Regions from separate parts of the Homo sapiens genome. Here region 1 is linked to region 2. The links come from fine-mapping of genetic effects on gene expression. A gene starts in region 2. The other region holds a variant in brackets. All regions are shown on one strand. Distances are between the middles of the regions. Region 1 has its middle 8.6 kb from the start of CFAP91. Region 2 holds the start of POPDC2 (popeye domain cAMP effector 2).

Region 1 (9,563 bases), 34 kb before region 2:
CCTGTATCTTGTGCTGACCTCCTGTCTCATACTGTGACTTAGAATGCCTAACCATCTGGAAATGTAGCCCAGTAGGTCTCAGCCTTATTTTACCTAGCCCCTACTCAAAATGGAGTTGCCCAGGTTTAAACGCCTCTGGCAATCTCATCAGAAAGACTTTTCCTCAGCCAGCCATGGTGACTTACGCCTGTAATCCCAGCACTTTGGGAGGCTGAGGCAGGCAGATCACCTGAGGCCAGGAGTTCAAGACCAGCCTGACCAACATGGTGAAACCCCGTCTCTACTAAAAATACAAAAAAATTAGCCAGGCGTGGTGGTAGGCGCCTGTAATCCCAGCTACTCAGGAGGCTGAGGCAGGAGAATTGCTTGAACCTGGGAGGCGGAGGTTGCAGTGAGCTGAGATGGCACCACTGCACTCTAGCCTGGGCAACAAGAGCAAGACTCTGTCTCAAAAAAAAAAGAAAGAAAAGAAGAAGAAGAAAGACTTCTTTTCCTCATTCTATCAGATAAACTATCTAAGGTAGTCAACAGCCAGCAGCCTCCATAAACACATCCGAAGACACTATTACCTTGATTTTTTTTATAGCACTGAAATGTTACTGATTTGCTTATTTATTATATCTCCTCCCACTAGAATGTAAGCTCTGTGAGACCAGAGACCTCAAATGTCCTGTTCACCCTGAATTCATCCATATCTCTTAGGCCAGTAAAACCACCTTTGCAAAAGATTATAACTGAGAAAATTATGACAGTGAGAAAAATCTGACATGGCTGAGTCCATCTTGACTCTAGCCTCACAGGTTGGCTGTCTTTGCTCATTCTGGGACATGAGCCAAGCTAACTTTGGGAGAAATTTAGAGTATACTTTTGTTTGTTTGTTTTTTGTTTTTGTTTTGAGATGGAGTCTTGCTCTGTTGCCCAGGCTGGAGTGCAGTGGCACAATCTTGGCTCACTGCAACCTCCACCTCCCAGATTCAAGTGATTCTCCTGCCTCAGCATCCTGAGTAGCTGGGATTACAGGTGCCCACCACCACACCCAGCTAATTTTTTGTATTTTTTAGTAGAGACAGGGTTTAGCCATGTTGGCCAGGCTGGTCTTGAACTCCTGATCTCAGGTGATCCACCTGCCTGGGCCTCCCAAAGTGCTGGGATTACAGGCGTGAGCCACCGTGCCTGGCCTAGTTTATAGTTTAAATGATAATAGCCCCTCCCAAAAACTAAACTATTTTTATAAAATGAGTGAAAGTCCACAAAGTTAGGATGAAAGGGGCCTGAATTATAAATAATTACCAGCCATTTTTTCGGAGGTCATAAGATTTGCAACTTCCCCAATTACTCTTGAAGATAACATCACTATTATAGAACCTAAGACTGGCCTTTTGAGGTATCTTTTTAGGCCTTTGCATTTCTGACAACCAGATGGCCCCACCTGGACCTGCCAACGAGTCCTGTCGTCCTCCACCTAGGAACTGACTCAGCCCAAGAGGACAGCTTCAATTCCCTATGGTGTCATCTCCAACCCAGCCAATTAGTATGCCATGCCCCCTACCATACCCCCCTTGCCCTCCACACTGTCTCCGAAAAACCCCTAACCTCCAAGCGTTTGGGGAGTAATAACAAAACTCCAGTCTCTTGTACAGCTGGCTCTGTGTGAATTAAACTCTTTTTCTATTGCAGTTCCCCTATCTTATAAACTGACTCTGTCTAGCCAGCGAGCAAGGAGAACTCACTGGGTAGTTACACCAGCACCTGGCACAAAGCAGGTGCTAAAGGAAAATACATTGGAATGAATTGAGCTACTGAATTATTCATGTATTTACCTGTCTGCCATCAGTGACTTTCACTTCTGTCTCACTGCCAATTTCATACCTTCACAATCTTTAAGATATTCCATTTCAAATGACCAAACATCTACTAGACAAACTCAATACATCCTCAGTAAAACTAACACTTCCGTACACTGCAGAAACTCTAATACAGTGATTAACTACGTGAACATTAGAATCAGATTTCCTAAGTTTGAATCTTTGTTCTAAAACAGTTCGTGTGATCTTCGGCATTTACTTAATATCCACATGCATCAGTTTCCAAAACACTAAAATGAGAACAAACAGCAATAATATCAGGGAAAATTATGGGAGGTAACACCTACAAAGGACTTAGAACACAGTCTGTTAGATAGCGAGTGTCCGATAAATGTTATAATACTACCTAGCTTCATAAATCTTCTCAATTTCTCCATTTCTGTCTTCGTGCATCATGAGCTTCCCATTTACCTAGAACTACATCTGATATTCATCTTAAAATATGTAAGAATACAAAGGGCAAATGTAGGGCTAAAGAATAGGCATGACTGTTAAAGATATAATTCATATACTTAAACACATATTTACATTTCACTACTAACTGAATAGCATTTAGTAGCTAAATGTAAGTAAACATGGATTTAAATATATAAATTTAGTAGCTAAATGCTATTCAGTTACATTTAGTAGCAAAATGTAACTACTATGTAACTACCAGTTACATAGTACTAGCAGTAGTATCAGCAGTATTAGTACTGTGTACTACTAATACATACTATTAGTTACTATGTAACTATTACATAGTAACATTTACTACTACATTACATGGTAGTTACATTTAGCTTCTAAATGCTATACATCAGCTTTTGCTACTGTTGGAAAACATCAGTTCAATCAGAAAAAACAAATGTTATTAGAAAACAAAATTTCCAGTTTAAGCTGGCTCATTAGGTGAAATTTTAAATTTACAGGTTAGTATATATATATATATATATAGAGAGAGAGAGAGAGCATTTAGGCCAGGTATGGTCGCTCATGCCTGTATTCCCAGTACTTTGGGAGGCTGAGGCAAGAGGATCACTTGAAGCCAGGAGTTTGAGACCACGCTGGGCAACATAGTGGGATCCTCTCTCTACAACAACAACAGCAACAAAATTAGCTGGGCGTGGTGTCATGCGCCTGTAGTCCTAGCTACTCAGTGGCTGAGGTGGGAGGATAGCTTGAGCCCAGGATTTTGAGGCTGCAGTGAGCATTTGATTTTGATCAGTGTTTTGCAACTTATTGGAGTTTGTTCTGAATTTTGGTTGATGGTCTCACAGCTATAGAAAGGAAGAAATTCTTCCCAACCGGAAGCTAAAGACAAAAATACACAGGCTTGATCTCATTTATTTTAGGTAGTTCACCAACTTTTATTCATTTGTGTGTATGTTCACACAGTCTCTTATTAGCTTTTTATCTTCTATCAATAACAAATATATAGAGAGATGAATCTCCAAGCAAAAGAGGGTTTATTTTGGAATAAAGAAATAGGGTTGCAATCTGGTACACATGCGTAGACCAGGGTGGTCTCTGATATGTGGTAGAACAAAAAAATGGTGAAGGTTTTATTGGGAAAGGAGAAAGAGTATGTGGGTTGTTATGAAAGAAAGCTCTTTGGTGCTTGCAACATGTTTTTTGCAGGAGCTGGTGAGCTCTGATTGGTCAGTGGCCACAATTTCTAGGTAAAACTAGTTTTAAAGTCATGGTGGCTGTTTCCTTGTAAAACTAGTCTTAAAACTGTAGCAGCTGTTTCGTTGAATTGGGCTTACTGGACAGTTTCTGGAGCAGGCTTTTGAGACCTGAGTTTTGTTTTCATTTTTGTTTTTTCTCTATGCCCCCCCACCCTGCACTGTAAATTTTAGTTGGGTATGACAGGTATGACTCCATTTAGATAATCAACTTTCACATTCTGCTCCCTGCCACCCCCCCACCTTTTTTTTTTTTTTTGAGACGGAGTCTTGCCCTGTTGGCCACTCTGGAGGGCAGTGGCGCCATCTCGGCACACTGCAACCTCTGCCTTCCAGCCTCCAGCAATTCTTGTGCCTCAGCCTCCCGAGTAGCTGGGATTACAGGCATGTGCAACCACTTCAGGCTAATTTTTGTATTTTTAGTAGAGACGGGGTTTCATCATGTTGGCCAGGCTGGTCTCGAACTCCTGACCTCAAATGATGCACCCGCCTCAGCCTCCCCAAAGTGCTGAGATTACAGACGTGAGCCCCCGCGCCCACATTTCCCTTTTTTGACTAAGATCTTTCCCTGAAAGCATCACTGGTCAACTATCCTTGAAGTTAGGCTTGATCTCCCTCAATGCCGGGATGTGCTTTGTCCTAGTTGTTCTGACCCCACACTAGAGGGAAAATAGGAGTCAATAGGAGTCAACATTAGAGGCCCAAGTCACATTTGGACAACAAAGGGGCCGGAAGGAAAGACCCTTACAGGATAGGTCTACCTGAGATTCAGCATTGGATTCCATCTTATCAGTTACACAGGCATTAGCAATCATCTGGAAGCACTGGACTAACATTTTCCTGTTGGGAAAGCAGGCTTTGCAAAGATTAGACAGGCAACAATAATGTAACTTAACTATCATAATGTCAAGAATAAGCAGCAATAGTATCATGAATTCAGTTTGAAAAATAGCTCTAAACCATGAATCTTATTTTGAAGGTAAGTCACTAAACAGATTGAAAAGTCCAAATGCATTGGGTGGAACTTTCTGGAGCCAGGTGGCATGTTCCGTTATCTTTCATAATTGTGTTTTCTACTTCCATGTGCAGCTAGTGTAAGCAATTGCACGAATACCACCTTGTTCAGCTAATAAGCAATCTAGAGCAATCCTGTTATCGAAAACCACTTTGGCAAGAAAATCTAAGGAAGTTTGGTGAGCTGCCATGGCTTTGGCTGTGGAGTCAGCTGGAGCTCCAATAGTTAGGGATAAATTTCTAACCATTATTTCTAAGGTACTAACCCCAATCCAGAGGAAGAAGGATCTAACAACTGAGGCCCATCCTGCTGAGTTTATGCCTCTAGGTAGAGTGTCTTTTTTGATATGATGGTGCAAGTTAGTAGATGTCAACCAATGTTCAGATTTTGCAAGTTTAAATTGAATGTAGAAATATCCCAGACCACATTGGTGCTTTATTTTCCATTTATTGAGACATGATGTTGCCCATGAATAAAGCTGACTGTAGGCTCCCCCACAGATGAAAATGTATCTCGATGTGTCACAACAGGTAATTCCACGTAGATGGAGTACCTTGTGCATTAACAGTTACTTGTAGGGAGGTGTCAACAGTAATTATCCAGGGTTCTATTATTGAATTATTGCACTGTTGGAAGTCATCAACAATTAGAGGAGGAAGGTCATAAATATTTTTATAAGCTGTCAAATTTCTTTTCTCTTGAATTCTATCAGCATGTTGTTTGCATAATCTTAATCTAACTTCAAGGCCTTTTTTGTAGATCTTAGGTAATGTTAGGGTGAAACAGGAAATCTGAATATGTGAGTCTAAAAGCTTGACCTTGTAAAAAGGACTAGATGTATAATTAGAACAGTTACATGGGGAATATCAGTAAAATCTGTTCTGAGGGCTGGGCACCGCTGGTCACACCTGTAATCCCAGCACTTTGGGAGACCAAGGTGGGCAGATCACAAGGTCGGGAGTTTGAGAACAGCCTGACCAACACAGT[G/A]AAACCCCGTCTCTACTAAAAATACAAAAATTAGCTGGGCCTGGTGGTGCGCCTGTAATCCCAGCTACTCAGGAAGCCAAGGCAGGAGAATCGCTTGAACCCAGGAGGCAGAGGTTGCAGTGAGCCAAGGTCACACCACGGCACTCCAGCCTGGGCAACAGAGCAAGACTCCATCTCAAAAAAAAAAAAAAAAATCCATTATGAGTTAGACCAGGGGTTCACTTGCATCATGGAGATTGAAGTTTTTTTGGTACCAAATCCAATAAATCGGTTATGTTTCTCATTTTGGAAATAGATTAGAAAATGCAAATTAGAGCCTTATTTTTCCAGGAAAATAAAAGCACATAAGAAGAGACCAATAGTAAAAGGAAAAGGGTATATTGGCCTGGTCTGGACGTCTTGTGAATAGCAGTTTATTTCAATTGTTGTCTGCTTCAGATAACAGATAAACTTTAAATTGCCTGCTGGGGTACCGGTCCAGGCAGAAGTAGAAGCCCTTTTAAAATGAGAGATGTGGATCAATGAGTCAATGCCTTTGAGTTTGGTGATACAGGGATTGGTGAGAAGGTCTTGGTATGGGACCTTCCAATGAGGTTGGAGAGAGTCTTCATATAGGTGTCTTTTCAAGATAGACAGAATCACCAGGTTGTAGCTTTAGGTCTTGGTGCTTTAGGTCTTTGTCCTCCAGGAGCACACTGTGGAAAGATTTTTCTACCAAAATATAATATTTGTCTACTACTGTAATAATTCCCTTACAGTATTATAGTATCTCTCCTTTTAACAATTGAGGGTCAAAGGCAGTGGGCATTAAATGCATAGGATGACCAGTGATTATTTCAAAAGATGAAAATTTGTGGGCTCTAAAAGCAGTGGTTCTCAGTAATAATACCAAGAGAAGAACTTTAAACTAAGGGAGGTGCAAGTTTTCCATACATTTTGCCAACTGAGTCTTTATGGTTCCATTTGTTTATTCTACCAGGTCAGAAGATTGGGGATGGTAAGAACAATATAAGTCCTATAAGATGGTAAGCATAATAAGAAGTCCATGTGGCCAGTAAAGTGGGTTCCCTGGTTACTATGAAGCTCAAGGGGAGTTCCCCAAAGAGGAATAATTTTTTTCAAAGAAAAGTTTGGCCATAGCTAAAACAGTAGCTTATCTAAAAGAAAGCCTTCCACCCAATGGGAAAACATACAGATCATAACCAATATATATGTATACTCATGGGAGGGAGGTAGTTGGAAAAAATTCAGTTGCCAAACCTTGAATGGCCTATTAGGTAAATTTAAATGTCAAGGAGGAGTCTATACAGATTTTCCTTGGTTAAATTTAGGACAGGTGGTAAAAGTCAAATAAGCATTTTAGTGGCTTTTAAAATATTTCCCCACCCCACCAATATTGTTTTCTGGAAGAAATTAATGTCAGTTGCCTAATGAATCAAATTATGTACTGTAGTTAATAGTGGATATTTCCTTGAATCTGGGAGAACTGGTTTGTTCTCAGGTCCCGATCAGAGTTCCTTTTGCTCATCAAACCAGAAATCATGGTCCTTTTTCGGTTTCATTGTTGTTTTTGAGATAGGGTCTCACTCTGCCACCCAGGCTAGAGTGCAGTGTGATCATGTCTCACTGCATCCTCAAACTCCTAAGCTCAAACAATACTCCTGCCTCAGCTTCCTAAGTAGCTGGGACTACAGGCACACCTCACCACACCTGGCTAATTTTCTCATTTTTTTGTAGGGACAGGGTCTCACTGTATTGGGAGGCTGCTCTTGAATCCCTGGCCTCAAGCAATTCTCCCACCTTGGCCTCTCAAAGTGCACTACAGGGGTGAGCCACCACACCCAGCCTGTTTTGTTTTGTTTTGTTTTGTTTTGTTTGAGACAGAGGAGTCTCACTCTGTCGCCCAGACTAGAGTGCTGTAGCAAGATCTCGGCTCACTGCATCCTCTGCTCCCCAGGCTCAAGCGATTCTTGTGCCTCAGCTTCCTGAGTAGCCCAGGATTACAGGTGCATGCCACCAAGCCTATCTAATTTTTTTGTATTTTGACAGAGTTTTGCCATATTGGCCAGGCTGGTCTTGAACTCATGACCTCAGGTGATCCACTCACTTCAGCCTCCCAAAATGCTGGGATTGCAGTTGTGAGCCACTGTGCCCAGCCCTGTTTTGTTTTTTTGACTTCAGTTTTGTTTTTTGACTTCTGAGGCCCAATTCTGTGCATCTTTGGTAATTGTTCTTTTTTTTTTTTCTGGGTCTCATTCTGTCACCCAGGCTGGAGTGCAGTGGCTTGATCATGGATCACTGCAGCTTCTACATCCCTGAGCTCAGGAGATCCTCCTACCTCAGCCTTCTGAGTAGCTGAGACTACAGAAGCACACCACCATGCCCAGATAATTTTTTGAGTGTGTTTTTTTGTAGAGATGGGGTTTTGTCATGTTGCCCAGGCTGGTCTCTAACTCCTGGACTCAAGCAATCCACCTGCCTCGGCCTCCCAAAGTGCACAGCCATGAGCCACTGTGCCTGGCCTCTTTGATAATTATTCTTAAATCATTTGTTGAAAGTTCTTTTAGTAGGGCCATAACAGAGATTTGATCAAATGAACCTTTAATGGCAGCATTCTTTGCTGCATTATTAGCAAAGCGGTTTACTCTCATCTCCATAAAAATGTAGATTTGAATGTACAGAAAATTAGATAATAGCCAAAGCAGCTGGTAGCTAGATGATATCCAGTAAGTCTTGTGTGTAGGATCCATTTGTAATTTGGCCTCCCATGGAAGTGAGGAAACCTATTATTTCCATAACATCCCCAAATCATGAGCAACCTCGAAAGCATACCTACTGCCTGTAAATACAGATTAGTAGATTTCCCTTTAGCAAGGAGGCAAGCCCAAGTAAGGGCAAAAGCTCAGCCTGTTTGACAGAAGTAGCCACAGGTAGGAAGCTAGCCTCAGATACTTCAAAAAAAGGTAATAATTGCATATCCTGCACACTCTTTGCCAGTGTCATCCTTTAAATATGATCCATTTGTAAACAATGATAGTTCAGCATTGTCCAATGGACTATATTGCAAATCTTTCTGGGGAATCAAAAGATAGTGAGGGTCAAACACTCATGGGGGGTTTCATCAGAAAGAAGGGGTGAGATGCAGGATTAAGATTGTTACAGAGAGAAAGTTATGTGAGGAGCAGCTAGTAAACGAAGTTCATAAATGCTAAGACAACTGGTAGAAAGGTGTTGGGTATGATGGGAATTTAAGAGCTTCAACAGAATGGGGAACAAAAGTGGTCAAAGGAGATCTCATGATTATTTATTCTATAGCTATAACTAGTAGAGCAGTAGCTGGAATAGTTCCCAAACAGGAGCATAATCCCCAAGCCGCTGGATCTAGTTATTGGCTGTAATATCCACTGGGGGCAGTGTTACTCTCAATGATTTTTTTAGTTAAGACGCCCAAGGAATTTCCCTTTTTTCATAAACAAAAAGGAAAATAAGGAGTGGATAATTGGGATGTCTCAGAGTATGGGGGGTTTAATAATTCTTTCTTTAATTTAGTAAATGCAATATTTTTAGATTCTTCTCAAACAATGGGATCGGTTTTAGAGGTCTTGAGTAGGGTGTACAGGGGTTGAGCAATTAAGTAAAAGTTTGGTATCCAGTTACTGCAGTATCCAGCAAGTCTAAGAAACTCTCTGAGTTGCCATTTCATTTTAGATTTGGGGAACTGCAGGACACCTTGGATCTGTTCAGGGCCCAAACGTAGTCATGTTCAAGAAGTCAGATGACCTAGATATTTAGCTTGGGTCTTAACTATAGTTATATTTTTTCTTAGAAACCTTATGATTTTTTTGTGGCAAGAAGTTTTAGAAGATGCACACTGTCTATCTCACAGGCTACCTGCGTGAGAAAGAACAAAGAAATAAATTACCTACATATTTCAGTAAGGGTGAGCCTTGAAGAAAAGCCACATTTTGTAAATTAGCTTTCAGAATTTGAGAAAAGTAGGAAGGGCCTTCCATATAGCCCTGAGGCAAA
Region 2 (9,563 bases):
CCTGCTATCTACCAGGGAGTATACTTTTTCCCAGAAGCTCCCCCACGTACTTCCTCTTACATCTCATTGCTCACAGGTCTACTTTTGTGCCAGTCGCTATCAAGGGGAATGAGATATTGTGCTTGGCTTCAACCAATCTTAGTTCAGGCTCTGGCAACTTGGGGAAAAGCCCACCTTCCTTAACATATTACCCAAGCAAAATTAGATTTGCATAAACTGAAGAAAAAGGGGAAATGGCTATGGAAGACAACCAATAGTGTCTGCTTAAGTTCAACTTGACACTATGTGTCCAGAGCATAAAATTATGCCTCTGTTCTATTTTAGTATCTATACTAGGAAAGTGTTAACCCCAAGCTCAGTGTTTCTCAAACTGTATGTGGTGAAGAACCAGCTTTTTTCCCCTCAATTCATCACAGACCCAACACTAGGAAAATGAAATAAACCCATATAGATTTAAAAATATGCTATACAAACCCAGAATTTTTGTTAGTTCAAAGGCCATAGTTTCTCTGTGAAATTGCTATAAAAAATGTCTAAAGTCACAATTTCTGTCCTTACCCCAGCATGAACCAGCATGGACAAGTAACAAACAGTTTGAAGACCAGGCTGAGTTCATGACCACACTTGTTGACTCTGGTGACTTCATAAGATGGCCCCCGCCTGCCTCGCCTGCCTCTTGTCTGCTGCTCCTTTTGATTCACCTACAACAAGCTGTTCTCTGTTACCAGAATATGCCACGTATTTTGTTTTACTTCTGGGACTGACTTTACAATCTGTTCTTTCTTCCTGGAATGCCCTCCTCTAGCTGGGGAAAACCTACTCATCTTTTTAGACCAGATTAAAAGTCACCTTCCCTGTGATGTTTTCTCGTGGAAAAAAATATTTTTTTAAGAGACAGTGGTCTCACTATGTTGCCTAGGCTGGTCTCAAACTCCTGGGCACAAGTGATCCTCCCATCTCAGCCTCCCAGAATACTAGGATTATAGACATAAGCCATCACGCCCCCAACCTCATGAATTTTAGTTAGGTTATAGCAGTATAGTAAAAGTCCCTATGGATTGAATTATTTGCTCCCTCATAAGTGTTTTTTCTTTGAATCCTAAGTACACTTATTTTATTGGATTACAGTTTCTGAGTCAGTATCCGGGATAGACTGAAAGTTTCTTGAAGTGATAATTGTCTTATTCATCTTTATATCCCCTGTTCTTGGAACACATAGTCTGTCCTGAATAAATGCCTATTGAATTGAATCAGCTCAACAAATGAGAAAACTTATGTTTCTTTCCTTTTTTCTTTCCCAGTTGTTTTTTATTGTGTTCTGCCTTCATGTTTGTGTATTTCCTTATAAGAACATACCATTTTGACAGACAATACATTTTTTCTTTCCTTTTCTATCAAATCTGGACTTACACAAGACACAACTTTTCATTGTTGTGTTCTGATCACAGGTCCTATCCTGTGGGCATCAATGTCACTATTACTGCAGGCCACTATTACTGCAGTGTAATGTCACTATTACATGCACCCATGATTCTCTGACACGTATGCCACCCTGGCAATGTACTCAAATTTCCAGCAGCAATAGATGAGCTTGTATATGCACACATGTAAACTCCCAAAAGTACCTGGTAGGATGTTATTAATATACTGTAGAGAATATACAATTCAGAGACACACTGACCTAGGCTTTAATCCTTATTCACATACTGACTAGCTTTGTGACCTTGGGCAAGTTCCTTAGCCTCTCTGAGCCTGCTGCTTCTATTAAAACAAAAAATAGGTATAGTAAGATAACATAAAACAATAGCTGCTTGATAAATGTTAGTCCCCTCTGCTGAGATAGCACATATGTGGATTGACAGGAAAGCAGGCTGAGTGCAGTCTGGACAGCAGGACAAGTGAACCATAGAGTTAATGGGTCTGCCTGTCTCTTTAATGGGTCAGGGCCAACCTATTTGGCAGGTCTCCTAAGAAAGATGAGCTGCTTTGAAATTGTATCTTGGGCAGAGCTTTGGTTGCTTCTTCATTTCTATGCTTCTGACTTCCCTGCTTACAGCTGGCAGGGACAGCTACTCTGGAAGCTCAGGGGCTGCATGTCTGTGATAGAAGGATGAGCAGCTGCTGCTTGTTAAAGTAGGGGGGTTGTTTGGGAGGCAGGCAAGTGATGTAAAAACAGTATATGGAAATCCCCAAACCCCACTGTTAAAATGATGTCAGGGGTCCAAATCATGTCCATGGAGTGACCTCAGTGACATTTCTTCTCCAAATACTCTAGCTCTTTACTGATTTTTTTCCTCTTAACTTAGAAAGGAGGAAATAAGGTATATATTTGTTGGTCAGATGATTTTAATGAGGTTAAGAAAAAACTGGCTTCCTTCAACATGCCATGCATTTTCATGCCTCTGTGCCCGTGCTTCTGCTGTTCTCACCACTAGAAATGCTGTTCTCCCCACTAGAAATGCTATTCTCCCTCTACCTGCCTGGTGAATTCAACCCCTAAACCTCAAATTAGAGGCCAGCCCTTCTTTGCATCTTCCCTCCCTGATGCCACCCTTCCTTCTAGGCTGCCACCATCCTTCAAAGTTAACTTGGTTGTTGTGCTTCACATACTGAACTGCCTTTGTTTTTTGAGGTCTCTTTACCCTAACAGGGTGAAAGTTTCTCTTGAGGATCTTTGATGCCCAAGGGCTTAGCTCATAAAAGGCACTCAATAAATATTTGTTGAGTGAAAACATCTCCTTCTCACCATATTTGACAATTTTGAATTTCTCATAAATTTTCATCAAGTTATAGCAGTATAGTAAAAGTCCTTATGAATTGAGTCCTTGATTAGTTCTGGGAGGTTACTGAGCACCCCGCCTGTACTTCAGGGGCGATAGGAGTAATGGGAGTAAGTGCTAACCCAGCAGCAGGGAGGAAGAATCAAGGAGTCATTTGGAATCCAGAGAGTCACATTTCTTTTTCTTTCTTTCTTTCTTTCTTTCTTTCTTTCTTTCTTTCTTTCTTTCTTTCTTTCTTTCTTTCTTTCTTTCTTTCCTTCCTTCCTTCCTTCCTTCCTTCCTTCTTTCCTTCTTTCTTCTCCTTCCTTTTTTTTTTTTTTTTGACAGAATCTTGCTCTGTCACCCAGGCTAGAATGCAGTGGCACAATTTTGGCTCACCACAGCCTCTGACTCCCAGGTTCAAGAGATTCTTGTGCCTCAGCCTCCCCAGTAGCTGAGACTACAGGTGCCCGCCACCACGCCCAGCTAATTTTTATACTTTTAGTAGAGACAGGGTTTCCACCATGTTGGCCAGGCTGGTCTCGAACTCCAGCCTCACTCAGGTGATCCACCCGCCTCAGCCTCCCAAAGTGCTGCGATTATAGGCGTAAGCCACTGTGCCCAACTAACATTTCTTAGCCTAATGTTTGCATACTCCAGCTTTATCTCTTGGCAGCCCAAAGTAGATTCCTAGGTTCAACCAGAAGTTCCTTGAAAATTGTCAGACTTCATAGAAGTGTGGAGTTGGGAGTCATGGATCTAGTACTGTACTTCCACTTACTGGCAAACCCCTTGGGACAGAGTATTAAGTTTGACAGACTTGGGTTCAAATCCTGGCTCTGCCACTTAGACCATCTGTGGGAGCTTGTTACCTCTCTGAGCCTCAGTTTCTTCCAGATCTAGAAGGAGAATAATATTTATTTTGAAGGATTGTTGTCACAACTAACTTATAAGTGTATAAAATGCCTAATCTAGGTTTGGCACTTCATGGGTGTTTAATAGGTGGGAATTATAATTTGGAAGCACCGGAGTGGGTGGGATGATGATCTGGGCAATGTATTATTATTTGTTTACTATTACCAGATCCAGATATATGCAGGGGAAAGCCAGCTTAGAATTCAAAAAGCCACTTTACATAGCTACTTTTGTTAAATGGATGTCAAATAAATACATAATGATATTTGCAGTGTGACTTAATAAAGGCCTTCAGGGGGTTTTCCAGCTTTCACTGTTAGGATTTTTTCTGATAATAGTCCCATACTTTCCTACTCTGATGTGTCCTCACTCAGAAGCACTGTCTGGCTCTCCCCAAAGGGAGCTCGGGACAGTTTCCTGCCTGAGGTGTTCAGGTGAATTCTGTGCTCACTTTTCCTTTCTCTCTCCTTGTCTGTCTCTCTGACCCTGAGGTCTTATCTTGTCCTCTGGGAGGTATGTTAAGTGCTCTGCCAGGCTGCCTGTGCCTGGCCTGTTTTTTCTCACTGCCAGTACCTCTTGGATTCCAATTCCAAACATGGTATCCATCTGGGGTCACCCTTTCTTCCGGTGCCAAGAGAGAACACATTCCAAATGGAACACAAATGTGCCTCCCATGCTGGCTCTCCTCATTCTGCTTGGGAAAAACAGAGAGCAGGATGTGGCCGCATCATCCCACGCTGCTGGACTTTTCAGTCCTGTAGTGCTACTTTCCCTTGGGACTATTTAGGTTTTTCTGCTAAGAACCAAATTTGAAGACTCCCAAGAAACATGGAACCAAGGAAGCTTGCCAGAGCTCTGCAGGGAGAGCCAGAGCCTTGCTGAGACAGCGGGGGTGGTGGGGAGGAGAGAGGGGGGGAGAGGGGGAGAGAGAGAGAGAGAGAGAAAGAGGTTTTTAAATTCTCCATGAAGTGTACTATGTTCCATCATTCCTTCCCAAAGCCACCGGAAGCATTCCTTCTAGGAAAGGTGGAGTCGGTAGTGAGAAGCCGGAGGTGAGAAGACCCCTGAGCGGATGGATTCATTCATTTTCTGAATTTCCTATGTGAGGACAGTATTAGAGCCCAGTGAGGCTTTGAGAGGCCCCAAAGATGAGCGCCAACAGCAGCAGAGTGGGCCAGCTTCTCTTGCAGGGTTCAGCGTGCATTAGGTGGAAGCAGGATGTGGAAGGGGCTGTCTACCACCTAGCCAACTGCCTCTTACTCCTGGGCTTCATGGGGGGCAGTGGGGTGTATGGATGCTTCTATCTTTTTGGCTTCCTGAGTGCAGGTTACCTGTGCTGCGTGCTGTGGGGCTGGTTCAGTGCCTGTGGCCTGGACATTGTTCTTTGGAGCTTCCTGCTGGCTGTGGTCTGCCTGCTCCAGCTGGCACACCTGGTATACCGCCTGCGTGAGGACACCCTCCCTGAGGAGTTTGACCTCCTCTACAAGACGCTGTGCCTGCCCTTGCAGGTGCCCCTACAGACATACAAGGAGATTGTTCACTGCTGCGAGGAGCAGGTCTTAACTCTGGCCACTGAACAGACCTATGCTGTGGAGGGTGAGACACCCATCAACCGCCTGTCCCTGCTGCTCTCTGGCCGGTAAGCTACTCTATCCATTGCCCAGAATTTCTTTCCCCAGCCCACACTTCTCATTTCCTAGTGTGTCCCTTTCCATTTCATGTCCCTTTCCATTTCGTGTCCCCTTCCATTGAGGGAAGGATGTGACAAGTCAAACAAACCAAAATAGATTTTTCTAAGAGTGGGGTTGCTTCCTCTTTCTTGGCATTTTCCAAGAAGAAACCAGTTCATGAGGCATCTTGGTTGGCAAGAATGATTGTATGTGCACTTGCTGCTGGAAGGTGTGCAGTGCGTGTGTCTTGAGCCTGGGCCTTAAATAACCCCTCTACCATCACCACACACATATCAGTGTGTCATGCCTAAGCTGCAGCAATATCTCTGTAAGCTTTGAAAAACTAACATTTCAATAAGGTTAATCTGTTCCTTACTCAAATTCAACATTTGCTAAGCACCAACTGTATTCAGGGAACAATGCCAGAAATGGGAGGTCGGGATAGCGGGGTGGTTCTCATAACCCCTGTTCCCTGCCAAGGCATCAAGCAAACAGCCCCACTTGTGTTTGGGGTAGCTGTATGTAGCCAGGTAGGGAGAGTGAATACCCCTTGCCCACCTTTCCATTTCCAGTTGTTCTATTGAGGTTCTTGAAGACTAAGAAGTCAAGTACAGTACTGTAAATCTGAGGGCCCAACAATGGGAGAAGAGAAGTGATACACCTATCTCATCAAGGCTTTTGTGGAAGCACCGCCTCTTTTGGAGAAGGCTGACAGTCAGATATGGGCAGAAATGGTCTTAGTCAGGATCAGTGTATGCCCAGTCAACCTGGATGTGAATGTTGGGCATTGATTTCTTCTGAGAAAACATCACGGGGCTCTGTGCTACACACTTAGTAGGCAATTGTGGATTTTTTTATACTGCCCTAGTGGCTCTTGAGCCCCACAACCCCCACTCCACCAGCTTTCTTGAGACCAGGAGAATGTGATAGAAAAGGTAAGATGGCAATTAGAAGGCTCCAATTCCAAGAAAAAAAAAAAAAAAAAGCAAATCCAGATAATACTGCCAACCACACAATGGAGAAAAAAGTTTGACAATGATGCTAATGGTACTACAACTACCACTAATAGTAATAATACGTGTTTGTGTATTCATTTATAGAACCTGAAGTATCATGTATATATGTTTTGATTTTGTTTGAACTCAGAGGTCCTGGATAGAGTGAGCTAGGAGGGGAGACATTTTGTGAGGGTACATTTCATTTCATTTATTGGTGAACTGAAAGTGTAAACCAATGCGATTATTTGTAAACAGATATAGATGTAAATACAAATACATATAACTATTGTGAAAATGTTTGCACCTATAGTTCCATGCTTAAAGACAATTTAGGGAACTTGCTCATTCATGAGACCCATGATGTTATAGCTCGTCTGTTCAAAGGAGGAAATTGAGAGCAGCAGAAGTGCTCCCTCCAGTGTAGGGTGCCCATTTGCTGGAAGCATGTATGGTTACTGTATAGTTCAGTTAGGATAGATTTACTGTGAACTTGTATAAGATCACTTCCCAGTGAAGGGGAGAGGGGGGCTTGCCCTTGGTGTAGCTTTTCCTGGTATACTTAGCATCAAAAGGCTGAGTCAGAAATTAGACAATTTTGATTTTTTTTTTTCCTGCCTTTCAAGGTTTGGAGTAAGAGTTTTGTTATCTTTCAGTGTCACCCTGTCTCAGCTTTGCTGAGCTGGACATAGAGGAAAAGGCTTCTAGTCTATGACTGGGCTCTAGTTTTAAAGGAGAATCACTGAACCTTGGGCTGGTTACAGTAAGGGACCAAACATCTCAAAGCAGCAGACAAGAACTTTGTGCCAGGAAGTGGGGACTCTTGTGCAGACTTCCACATCTCACATGCACACTGTTCTCTAGAGTCCTTCACTCAAACCTCAGAAGTCTTTTTGTTTTGTTTTAATAAAGGAAACCAATCTCTTTCAAAACTCAGAGAGGGAAAGTGACTTTCTCAAAGTCTATCACCCTGTTAAGCAGCGCTTAACTTAGACGTTTCTCTCATATAAAATTCAAAACACAAACTTCCATATATACAACCCCCTGAGCAGGCAACTAACTATCTAAGCTATTCATTTAGGAGAAGATCATCCATCTTCCAGTAGATCAAGAAGGAAGAAGAAACAGATGATAAAGGGCACAGCATTCCGATTTAAATGGCTTCAGCGAGCCACGAAGATCATTAGACATTATCTACACTCTACGGTTGTCACTCTTTGGTGGCTTGCCTGGGTGGCCGAAATCCTCGCCTAAGGAGCTGACATATGCTGCAGCAGCGCCATTCTCTTCTGCTGTCTTCCTTTGCTATGGAAGCTTTTCAGTGAGGTTTTGATCCCCTTTTATGGTGACACAAGTGAGTTTGTTCCTTGGTTTCCTTTGTTCATTTATTCATCCTTACTTTCTTGCTTCCTTCTTTCCTTCTTTTCCCCCTTCCATACATATTTATTCAGAGTCTTGAATAAAGCTCCTGTCTTCCAGCTTTAGGTTGTCAGATAATAGGTGCAATTGTTTTTTTAATTGGTGCTGGTCTTTGGTAATTTGTATACACGCATGTATACCTAGGCATTCATTAAGAGCAAGGCTCAGGAGTGCTGATATCCCATTGGCCAGGACTTATCACTTGCCTATGCCTAGCAGCCAGGGAAGTAGAGAAATGTTGATTTTTTTCTCTGCAGTCATGTGTCCAGTTAAAATCTAGCACCATTAAGGAAGAGAAGAAAGCAGATACTGGAGAACAGACTGCCACACTGGATTTCCCAGGTCTTTGTTCATTCTCATCTTTATCTGCTTCTCAATACCCTTTGCATCCCTCAAAATTCAGCTCAAATGTCATCTCCTTCGAGAGGTCTGCTGCCCAAAGAGAACCAATCTTTCTCTCTCCTCTGTTACTGTTCCACAATAGCACCTATCACATTGACTTGCAGCCAGTTATTTATGTGCCTGTGACTTCCACTAAATTGTGAAATCCTCAAAGACAAAGACCAGATTGTGCCCATCTCTGCATTCCCAGATCTCCAGAAACATGAGAGATGCTCCAGAAATATTTGTTTAGCCAATAAACCTCCAGAAATAATGGAAGGATATCTCCCCCAAATGAACAAGGTGTACCTTAGAGATCTTTTTCATCTTCCCCCTTTGCCTAATAGAGGCACCCCTATTGCCTGATATAACTCACTTTAGAAGAGAGGTTAAAGATGAAACTCTGAGTTTTCTGGGCAGGGGTCGGGTTGGGGGAAGGATAAAGCCCATACTGGATTCTAATCTTCTTCCAGATGTGGCCTCACATCTGAAATACACTCCCTGTCCTCAGGCATCATCAATGACATGCCATCAGTTCTAACAAGTTCTCATGGAATGCAGTCTTTTTACCCTGCAGGGGCAGAGCACTAGGCTAGGTACAGCCACAAGGGTACAAAGGCACCAAGCAGCAATAGTAAGGCTCCTAACCCCTTAAGTTGTGAAACCAAGCCTGTGGTCATGGGCAAGTCAAGAGCAGTTAATGACTTAAGACTTAAGACTTAAGAATATTCATAAAATTAAAGCAAATAATTCGGATTTCTGGCTGCAGCCACAGTAACCCACTCTAGCCAACAGAAGGGGGAAAAAAGGTCTTTATTTAAAAAAATACAAGGATTTCTTATGAAACTCAAGGAAAGACATGCACCTAAGCCTCAGGTAGTGCTAGAAACAAGAACATGTCCTACTAGGACATTTTATGTGATTTCAAGTTTATTTTCTCTATAGCCAATTGGGACCCATGCTTTTCAAAGTCTGAGTTACGTGATAAAAAAAAATTTTTTTTAGTTCCTTCAGGGAGGAGTGTGTTAGTTTTGTTAATAATGCCTGATAATTGTCCCCATCCAAGGCATGATTTACACGCAATTCCATTTCCAAATTCCCAGGGAAGGAGTTTGATTGGCTCAGCTTGAGTCAGGTGTTCACTCTAGGACCATCAGCTGGATAGGGTGCATGGGATCTCATTGTCTAAAGAAACAAGCTGTTATTGTCACCTACGGTTAGAGAGGTCCGGGAAAGGGTCATGCTAGGAGAGTCCACTACCATCTACCCAAAGCTGTAGTAATAGGGTGGCAACATGGTGTTGTGCTAAGAACATAGAATTTTAGTTCCGCCACTTGATCGCTATGTAGCCTTAAGCTCGCCACTCAACCCTTCTGAGCACCAGTTTCCTTAGCTATAAAATACAGAAAAGAATAATCTACCTT

The links. PIP is the estimated chance that this variant, and not a neighbour inherited with it, causes the effect.
Region 1: its variant is the best candidate, but not a certain one, in a credible set for the expression of POPDC2 in whole blood (INTERVAL, PIP 0.74).

Annotation. Positions count from the first base shown.
Region 1 is chr3:119,689,636-119,699,198 of GRCh38, reverse strand. No RefSeq gene overlaps it. Among named protein-coding and RNA genes, the nearest start is that of CFAP91, 8.6 kb to the left of the region's middle. RefSeq lists an enhancer at 1,651-1,700. The variant G/A (reference allele first, on the strand shown) is at 5,535.
Region 2 is chr3:119,655,683-119,665,245 of GRCh38, reverse strand. POPDC2 (popeye domain cAMP effector 2) reads left to right here and starts at 4,657. Exons shown (of 4, transcript NM_001369919.2): 1 at 4,657-5,313. The coding sequence starts at 4,823. It also overlaps a transcript of COX17 not described here. RefSeq lists an enhancer at 2,353-2,402.